Linked DNA regions of Homo sapiens: region 2 is linked to region 1. A link means that fine-mapping ties the variant in region 1 to the expression of a gene that starts in the linked region. Tissue or cell type: monocytes after Pam3CSK4. Region 1 holds a variant in brackets; the other region holds the start of a gene. All regions are shown on one strand. Distances are from middle to middle.

Evidence for each region. PIP is the estimated chance that this variant, and not a neighbour inherited with it, causes the effect.
Region 2: it holds the start of MFF, and the variant in region 1 is fine-mapped to the expression of MFF in monocytes after Pam3CSK4 (Quach 2016, PIP 0.95).

Annotation. Positions count from the first base shown.
Region 1 is chr2:227,406,665-227,411,925 of GRCh38, forward strand. No RefSeq gene overlaps it. Among named protein-coding and RNA genes, the nearest start is that of SCYGR1, 21 kb to the left of the region's middle. RefSeq lists an enhancer at 4,946-5,145. The variant G/GTA (reference allele first, on the strand shown) is at 2,778.
Region 2 is chr2:227,322,104-227,327,364 of GRCh38, forward strand. It overlaps MFF (mitochondrial fission factor), which reads left to right and starts at 3,148. Exons shown (of 9, transcript NM_001277062.2): 1 at 3,148-3,324. It overlaps MFF-DT (MFF divergent transcript), which reads right to left and starts at 3,061. Exons shown (of 14, transcript NR_102371.1): 1 at 3,015-3,061. RefSeq lists an enhancer at 2,970-3,019 and a silencer at 3,200-3,489.

The DNA.
Region 1 (5,261 bases):
TTGTTACATGCCAGGCATGAGTCTTGTAGGGGCTAAGAATTCAGCCTTGAGTAAGACAGCCGAGGCCACTGCCCTCTGGAAGCATCAGTGACCCTTGGCACGTACTCCCATCTATTTGTTTCTTTTCTCTCTGAGCCAGTCCAAACCAGCAGTATCTACATCATCTTTTCTTGTTCTGAAAGAGAATGCAAGTCACACATTTATGGCTGTGGGCCACATTTTTTTAGAGATGCCATCTGGTTCCAGTTTTTCTGACTGTTTGTGGAGAGTGGTGATTCCAACAATCTTCTACCAAATGTAAGGGGGTGATAAAAGTGTTCAGTGTTTGCCACAGAGATATCTCTAGCTTGGCCTGATCTCAGTGCACTGCTTTTTGGGTTTACTCAACAAATTGAACAATGCTCAGCCCCTCTTCCATGGAACCTTCCCAATCTCTTTAACCAGGGTTACACTGCGACTCCTCTAAGTCTCTGTACATCATAGCACTTTTGTGGGAGACCACTGCTACTTCAAATCTCTGCCAATAGCACCATGTTTCCTTTCGTTGCTAGCTTTTTAGAATTCTAAAGCCTACTTGGCCATTAGATTTTTTTTATTTTTTTTTTTTTGAGACAGGGTCTCACTCTGTTGCCCAGGCTGGAGAGCGGTGGTGCAGTCACAGCTCACTGCAGCCTCAACCTCTTGGGCTCAAGTGATCCTTCCACCTCAGTCCCCCAAGTAGCTGGGACTACAGGTGCTCACAACCACACGCAACTAATCTTTGTATTTTTTGTAGAGACAGGATTTCGTTATGTTGCCCGGGCTGGTCTCAAATTCCTGAGCTCAAGAGATCCTCCCATTTTGGCCTCCCAAAGTGCTGGGATTACAGGCATGAGCCATTGTGCCCGGACTAGCTATTTTTTAAATTGGAGTTTGAGGAAGGAGGAACAGAAAGGCTGCATCTGCTTAGTAAATGACTCCCCGCTGCCAACACACATACCCAGCAGATGGCAACACCCATGAAAATCCTTTCATCCTGTTGTGAATGGTGGATTCCCAAACTCTACAGGACCCTGCACTAGTCAGCATCTGCTCTTCCCTCTTGAGTCAGGGCAGCCTGCAAAAGTCTGGTGTGTATCATAGGCATCTTGGGGCTCACCTTCTACAGAAGGTCAGAGGGCACAGCAAAAATAGCTTTCTTGCTGTGACCTAATACATAAACCCTGGCACACTTCCGCCTGTCAGATGGGAGCACGCCCCTGTCCTCGGGCTGTTTTTCGCTGTCGCAACAGGCTGTTCTGCCGTTAATCCTTTCCTGTAATTCCCGCCGCCTCGCTCGATCTTGCAATTCTCTTGCCCAGTGGCCTTTACAGGGGGTCATTACTGGGACACGGGGAACCAATGTGCGGTAACAAATGCAAGCTGACAGCAACACGTTCCTCGCCAAAAGTGGGACTCTTGGGTTTTGTGTGTGTCAACTCAGAAGAAACGAGAAAAAGACCCCACCATGTGTTGGATGAGGATGGAAATTGGATGCAGTGACTAAAAGTGCTTTGATTAGGTGAATCCGTTGACAGTAAGAAGGAAGAGATTCTCAATGTGCTTGGCATTTCACTTTGTCTCACTTTGGGTGAATAGTCCCAATTCTGTCAGACGTGCATCTCTTCGTCTGTCAGCTCCGTGTCTCTTGCCAGGATGCTTCTCTCTATCTATCAGGCAGAATTTTCAGATGTTGTCTTTCCTGTCAGGAAAAGTTTAATTCATCATTTTCCTCAGGCCTTGAAAAAATTTTTACAGGAAAAAAATGGTGGTGGTGGGTTGGGGGTGGGGGGTTATGACAAAAACATTTACAGATTTTTCTTCACATATAATTTTAAAATTGCCTATTTTTGCTAGGCACGGTGGTTGAAGCCTGTAATCCCAGCATTTTGGGAGACCGAGGCAGGTGGATGACCAGAGGTCAGGAGTTCAAGACCAGCCTGGCCAACATGGTGAAACCCCATCTGTACTAAAAATACAAAAATTAGCTGGTCATGGTGGTGGCACACTCCTATAATCCCAGCTACTAGGGAGGCTGAGGTAGAAGAATCTCTTTAACCCGGGAGGTGGAAGTTGCAGTGAGCCAAGATCACGCCATTGCACTCCAGCCTGGGCAACAGAGCGAGACTCCATCTCAAAGAAAAAAAAAATTACTTACTTTTGAGTAGGTAATACATACACACAGTACAAAAGTCAAAAGGTTCATACAAATGGAAAAAACTCCATACTCTCTTCGCCTCCATTCCCCAGGCACCCAGTTCCTCTCAACGGAGGCAACCCTGGGTACTAGTGGTTTACATCTTTCTAGAGACTGTCTCTGTATAAATTAGCAGAGATAGTCTTCATATGCCTTTTGAGAGCATCTTTTTAAAATTTCTAAATCTAGGTAAGTTCTGAAAAGGAATATATTAAATATACATTAAAATATACTCAATGTGGCTGGGCATGGTGGCTCACACCTATAATCTCAGCACGTTGGGAGGATGAGGCGGGAGGATGACTTGAGGTCAGGAGTTTGAGACAAGCCTGGCCAACATGACAAAACCCTGTCCCTATTAAAAATACAAAATTAGCCAGGCAATGAGCCGGACTTGGTGGCGCATGCCTGTAATCCCAGCTACTTGGGAGGCTGAGGCAGGAGAATTGCTTGAACCCTGGAGGTGGAGGTTGCAGTGAGCCAAGATCGTGCCATTGCACTCCAGCCTGGGTGACAGAGTGAGACTCTGTCTCAAAAAAAAAAAAAGTATATATATATATGT[G/GTA]TATATATATATATATATACACACACACATATATATACACACACACATATATTCAATGTATTGAATGGTCTGTCCAGTTGAAGCCCTGATTCTAGACTAGATAATTTGTTGGCTTCTTGTTAGATCACTCTTAACAGAAATGTGACTGGACTTAGAATCAGTCTGGAAGCATTGTGGATACTCTGGAGTCTGACGTTTCTTGTCCCTTAACATTCAGCTCGTCTTTCCTGAGTTATACCTCTTAGTCATTTCCCTTTGAAATTAAGAGAAGGGCCTCAAATCTTAAAAATGGAAGAATACGGCCGGGCACAGTGGCTCACACCTGTAATCCCAGCACTTTGGGAGGCTGAGGCAGGCAGATCACCTAAGGTCAGGAGTTCGAGACTAGTCTAGCCAACATGGTGAAACCCCGTCTCTACTAAAAATACAAATATTAGCCAGGCATGATGGCGCACACCTGTAATCCCAGCTAGTCGGGAGGCTGAGGCAGGAGACTGGCTTGAACCTGGGAGGCAGAGGTTGCAGTGAGCCGAGATCACACCACTGCACTCCAGCCTGGGCGACAAAGTGAGATTCATCTCAAAAAAAAAAAAAAAAAAAAAAGGAGGGATAGAAGGTCTTGTGTTATTAAGACATAGAAGAAAAGTTAGTTGAGAATCTCACTGGCCACACCCCAAGAGGGGACATTTGGCCACTGCGGGTACATTGGGTGGTCTAGGGAATTGGCTGGGTCTGGGACACACTTGTTAAGCTCCTGAAACTTAGAGTTGAACAGAACAACAGCAGCTAGTATAACGACTTGAAAGGTCCTTTGATGAATTTTAATACCTGGACGCATAAATATTTGTGTTTGATACTTTTAGGCATCTGAAAGAAGTGTCTGATTTCCTTGCTAAGGGATTGGCCTCAGGAACAGATGCATACCAGTGTTGAAATTCTCCTCAGCCTCGTGACTGGCAGTGATTCTTGTGTATCTGCCCTCTGCCTGTGTTGGAGCTGCTAAATTGTAAGAATTTGTAAGTTGGTAAAATACTTCTAAAAACCCTCAGCTCCATAAATATTTTTAAATTTAAATTTAATTTTGTTTTAGAGATAGGGTCTTGCTATATTGCCCAGGCTGGTCTCAAACTCTTGGGCTCAAAGCATCCTCCCATGTCAGCCTCCAGAGTAGCTGGCACTACGGGCACATGCCTTGCTTTGCTCTTTAATTTTTTTTTTCTTTTTTTTTTGAGATGGTCTCTTGCTCTGTCACCCAGGCTGGAGTGCAGTGGCACAATCTCAGCTCACTGCAACCTCTGCTTCCCAGGCTCAAGCGATTCTCCTGCTTCAGCCTCCTGAATAGTTGGGATTACAGGCATGTGCCACCACACTTGGCTAATTTTTGTATTTTTAGTAGAGACGGGGTTTCACCACATTGGGCAGGCTGGTCTCGAACTCCTGACCTCAGGTGATCCACTCGCCTTGGCCTCCCAAAGTGCTGAGATTATAGGTGTGAGCCACCGTGCCTGGCCAGCTCTTTAAATCTTAACGTAGTAACACCGTTACTAATTTCTCAGCTGCTTTTCTGAGTTTAACAATTTCTGACTGAATGCTTTATTTATAGGTTGACAATTCTCAGTACCCCTAGTCAGCCAAATGTGTCTCTCTCCACAACAGAGACTCACCTTCTCGTGGCTGCAAGCTGTGCAGCTGAAGAGGGATTCTGGAGAAAGAAGGGGAATCCTTTTGTTTGGGTCTATTAATGCTACGCAATGTGCCTGGGTTCTTGGAGGGAGACATATCCCATTCTTCCTTATTCCCTCCCATTGACTATACAGGAGAAACTGTATGGAGCTTACTTCAGAAAAACTATTAAGTCCCAAAGATGTGAAGTGTTTTGAATTTTATTCAAGTCCAACCTTGCAGGGCAACAACTCAACACAGCCATTCCTGCTCTTTCAGGAGAAGCCACAAGTGTGGGAAGACAGGCAGCTAAGTCTAGGGCACAGACAAATTAGTCATACTGTCTGCTTAGATCCTGAGGGCCTGCGAAACCCTCAAGGTTTCCTGGTGTCATCTTAAGGTGCTAGTTATTCCATTCTGGCTGCCTTTTGATTCATTTGGTTTTCTGCCCACAGGCAAGCAGAGGCGAAACCAACCTGCCAACTCTTACCTCAAACCCATTGAGAGAGACCTGGGGATTTCCTAGGGTTTTATTTTTACCTATTGCTCCCCAAACAGAAGTTCCATTACACAGAAGCATTTCTTTTTTTCTTTTTCTTTTCTCTTTTTCTTTGAGACGGAGTCTTGCTCTGTCACCCAGGCTGTCATGCAGTGGCACCATCTTGGCTCACTGCAATATCTGCCTCCCGGGTTCAAGAGATTCTCAAGCCTCATCCTCTCGAGTAGCTGGGATTACAGGTGTGTGCCACCACATCCAGCTAATTTTGTATTTTTAGTAGAGACGGGGTTTTGCCATCTTGGCCAGTCTGGTCTCGAACTCCT
Region 2 (5,261 bases), 85 kb before region 1:
TCCTGAAGCCAGCAAGACCATGAGCCCACCAGAAGGAAGAAACTCCGGACACATCTGAACATCTGAAGAAACAAACTCCGGACACATGACACACCATCTTTAAGAACTGTAAGACTCACCGCAAGTATTCGCAGCTTCATTCTTGAAGTCGGCGAGACCAAGAACCCACCAATTCCGGACACAGAAGGAAGGAAAACAAAGGGGAAAGCAGATTCTCTACAGAATGTGGATTTTTCCCATAAGAGACTTTGCAGGACAATTTCAAGGTAGGGCAAGGAAAGATATTTTTGGGTAAAATATTTTTATTTTCTTCCTTATTATGCCAGAGTCAGATTGGAAAGTAAGTCATGATATACACGGTTAAATAAAACCCATCTGATGTGCATTTATGGTTTGGAGAACATGACTCCCCAAACCCCTTAGATAGGAATTTGAGCAAGATAAAAAAATCAGAGCTTAGTCCTCAGAACCAACCTAATGCATGATCTCCCAACTTGATCTCTATCTTCCCACAAAAGATTGACTTGGAATGACTTATTATTCCTAAAAATCAATCTATTCTTAAAGGCTTATTTGTCTCTGTAGGGTAGTTGTTAAGAGTTAAAGAAAGAAGAGAGAAACACAAAAAGTGGCTCAACAATCAAGGATAGGTTTATTTTAGAGAATAAACCTGAGAGGGGCTTCTGGCCAATTTTGGTCAGGAGCACTCTCTCTTACAGACTAAGAGTATTTAAGGGTTTAGGGTGAGAGAGCTTATCACAGGCTTGGAATATTTCTGCTTGGAGGAGAAGTTTATTACAGGGTTGGAATGTCTCTGGTTGGAGGGGAGGGGTTATCTTGGGGCTGACATCGCTCCGGTCAGAGGGAAGGTTATCTTGGGGCTGACATCGCTCGGTCAGAGGGAAGGTTATCTTGGGGCTGGCATGTGTCTGGTGGGAGAGGGGTTTATCTTAGAGTTAGAATGTTTCTGGTCGGAGGTGTCATTTGTGGTTTGTGGTCATGCTGACAGCCATTAGGCTGATGCCCTCTGGGTTGGATTTAGGTGGTTTTTGATCAAGGGGCACTTTAAAATGGCAGTGCTTCTGCTCTGTCAATAGTAGGATATGCCAACCCAAAATATGGCACTTTGGCATAAAGATTATTTTCGAGTCAAAGGCACTTAAAAAAAAAATGCAAAAAGAGCACTGTGGCTTTCCTTTTTCCTTCCTGAAAGCAGGAGATAAAACTTCCGTATGAAAGGTGCCCTCCCTGTATAAGGAGGAAGGGAGATGTTCTCAACACCAGAGACATGGAGTCAAAGCTGAGCTGTATCTGCACAAACTTACCGATTTTCATTTCCACTTTGTTACAACAACCTTTATCTTCTTAGTCACTTCTGCATTAACTGCACTAACCCAAATCTGTTTGTTTTCTCACATTTTCACAATTTACTACTCTTTTTAGCCTTCCCTAGAAAAATGGAGACTCAAAAGCACTTAGGGTCCAACTGTTAATTTGGGTCTCCATTTTTCTAGGGAAGGCTCCAATGTAAATGTAAAAATTACTAAATAAAATTTGTATGCTTTCCTCCTGTTATGTTTTATGTCTCTATTTTACGTCAGTGGAGACTAAGCTCTGATTTTTTTTTTAATCTTGCTCAAATTCCTATCTAAGGGGCCTAGGGATTCATGCCCTACAATCCATAAATTCTCATCAGATGGGTTTTATTTAACCCTATATATTGTGACTTACTTTCCAATCTGACACTGGCATAACGAGACAAGAAACAAAATCAAAATATTTTACCGCAAAACATTTTTTTTAGTTTTTGACATATCTTGAAACGGCTCTGCAAAGCTGTCCTTTGTTGGGGGAAAATCTGCATCTACATAGAATTTCTATTAACATAGCTAGATCATTTTCTTCCAGGTCCTCCCAATCCTAAAGAGATTACGTAAGAATCTAGCACCTTTTAAAGATCTGAATAGGAAACATTTGTCATCCATTGTCTCTAAGGGCAGCCACTATAAGACTTCAAAAGAACCTTGGTCTCCACAATCTTTTATTTTAACCTCAACATTTCCTTTCTATGGGTCCCAGGTCTTCAACTGTCAACCAGAAAATGTTTAAATTTACCTACAGCCTTGGAAGCCCCTGCTTTGAGTTGTCCCACCTTTCTGAACCAAACCAATGTAGTTCTTAAATTTATTTGATTGATGTCTCATGCCTCCCTAAAATACATAAAACCAAGCTGCGCCCCAACCACCTTGGACACATGTTCTCAGGACCTCCTGAGGGCTCTGTCACGGGCCATGGTCACTCACATTTGGCTCAGAATAAATCTCTTCAAATATTTTAGAGTTTGACTCTTTTCCTCATCAGTTTAATTCTTAGGCCCAGCCAAGACCCCAAGAGGGGAGAGGAAATATTTTCACTTTCCCTACACCAGTGTTAAGAAGCCCAAGAACGCAATTCAGAGGGCTTCCCAAATCATTTTGAAGAATGGTAACATCTCTAGAATATCAATTAGATCGTAGGGGAGTACATAAGTCATGTGTACACCTTTAGGTGTTTGTGAAAACCAAGGCATATAAAATATCACATTATTTGGCCTCAGTACATTCCCATACTGACAAGCACTGTACCATTTTTCCCCCGCTCTAAGCAAGGGCTTCCTGGGGGGAAGAGTCTGTGGTTGGGTGTTCAGAAGCAGAGAGTGCTCTCCCAAAGCTAAACGATGCCGCCAACTACTGTGAAACTTAACTTCCCCTCTCCCGGAATTCTCATGGAAGACAAGGTCTGATCAACCGAGGGCTTAAGAAGTATCAAATTGGAACTCATGGAATCACTGGCGGAGCTGATTTACATATGAGAATTCCTAAGCCTCACAGCATAGAAATTTTCATGCCAGATGGTCCTGAAAAAGTTGTTTTAATTGGCTACCAAAGGTTTACCTTGCAAACACCAAGTTCTTAAAGATTACAAAATCTAATAAAGCCGAAGTGTGAATTAAACTTAACCGCAAGAGGAGTCACCTGCGGTCACCTCGTTTCGCCCACAACAAAGATGTCTGCGCATCGCTTACCGTGGAGCCGTTCCAGTGCGTGGGCCACGCGTCCGCCCTTTTCCGCGTCACATGACCACGAACACTCTTCCGCTACGGCTCCCAGAAGGGGCCAGCCCGCGCCTTTCGCGCTTCTGCCCTGGCCCTCTGCGGGCCGCTCCGCCGGTGCTGTCCCTGGGCGCCTCCGTGCTCTCAGCCAACCACCTCTGAGAGCGCCCACTCGAGCGCCCCGGGAGCCAGAGGGCGGGGGTCCTCGCCGGGACCCTCCTGTGGGCCCAGGGGTGAGTGTTGACGTCTTCCCGACCCGCGACCTGCCGCCCGAGCTGGCTGCCAGGCCTATCGCCGCCGCCGAGACCCTCCGGCCAACAGGGACCCGCGGTGGCCCCGGCCCCCCCGGTAGTGTCTCCCTGACCCGAGTCCCGTCCCCGGGCCTCTTGCCTTCAACCCTGGTCTTTCCTCCTCCCCGGGACCTTGAGTCCCCGAGGAGAGCGAGGGAGAGGAGCGTCTTCTGCAGGTGTTTTTGGGCGAACCTCTTCACCTTGTGTGGTTCGGCGTCTCCTTTTGTGTATTAACCCGGACTTTTCCGACTGGAAAATAGGGGTTTGGGAAGCAGCGGGAGTCCCGTGAGCGTGAACGCCGGGCTTTGCAGGTCTTCACTCATCCTTCCCTGCCAAGGCCCTGACACCTTACAGGCTGACCTTAAACCTGCCTTGTTTAAAAGGAGGTTTTTGTGTTGTTTTGTGGCAAGTACATTTTGGAAAAGAAGGGCCTTGTTGGAAGCCCAGGTTGTGGCATCGCGGGTGGCTGCGGGCCACCCTGTCCGTCTGTGAGCATCCCTGCTCGCAGATGTGGCTGCAGGCAGTTGCTCTCGGGTTTCCTTCCAGGAGCTGGGAAGCCGGAGGAAAGCTGCGGTTCCTGTTCCGCCGAGCTTCTGACCTTCCTCTGCAGGACGTGTGCTACTATTACTATCGTAAAAGAACACCCCTGTCTACCTCCCACAAAGTTAGAAGCAAAGGGCATTCTCGAGGGAAGAGCACCCTTTCAAAAGTGACATGTTTTCATTGGAGAACATTAAAGGGGAAAAAAAAAAAAAAGGTTTCTGGCCCTTCTGCCCAAATATAGAACCATTTGTATTCAGGCCTCTCATCCACCGAGAGACTTAAGATGATCACAAATGTTTTGTCTCCCTGCGTGAAAAACATTTTTTCTGCCTCAATTCCGTTGGCTAATGAGAGCCCAAAAGAAAAACCCTTAGGAAAATTAGGACGATTTAGTTATACTTAGTAGTCTTTTCCCATGCAATTAAATTGCTTGGGGGACCTTCTATCTTTTGGTTTCAAAGGCTTGTATATTGGTTTTGCCATTTTTTCCAAAAGGAAATTGTGTTCTCTCCCTTCCTGTCTGATAGAGCTGCCTCCTTTCAGAATTGCAAAGTTTAGTCTTCGCTCTCCTCTCTTCTGGTATTGAAACTTTTCTGTGGGTTCATAACCTTATTTTAAAGTTCATTAATATATAGTTTTAAAAGTTTGCAGTGACTTTTTAAATATAGTTTCTTTGAAAAAGAACTGAAACAGGGTGTGCAGAGTGGCCCATCTGTGTGAACTAGGTCCACGCAGTAGGTAATAAACAACTGGAGGGTTTTTTTTGGTTTGTTTTTGTTTGTTTGTATGTTTGTTTTTGAAAAGTACATAAACATTTGCAACCACAGTCAGTTTGACTCAAGTTGTTTCGGTGACTTCCGAGGCTTTCTGGGTTCCAGTGTTCTAATACAGAAAATGAGAAAGTTGGGCTGGAATCATTGTGTCCCAAAATTGGTACACTTTCCGCTAGTGGCATGTGACTTGACTCTAGGCGGTACGTGGATGAGGATTTTTTTGTAATAGGATGTTTTTGCAATCTGTATTTATATATGTACAGCCATGGTTTAAGGTAGTGATACAAAATTTTCTTTTACAATACTTTTTTGATTTTAAAAAGTCGAGTTAAAAAAATTAACTGTAGCAAAAAGTTAATGTACTCTGTGAATATGGGAAAAAAAAAACCCATGAAGTTGGCAAGTTAGTTACTGGTGTTTGGGAACCACTGGGCTTAGAAAGTAGAAATATGAAATCATCTGTGATTCTAAGAGAGATTTTGCCTCGTTTGTTATGTAACAGAATCACGTACTGGTTGCCTACTGGATTCTAAGGTACAAAACTTCTGGAATTAACATATCAAC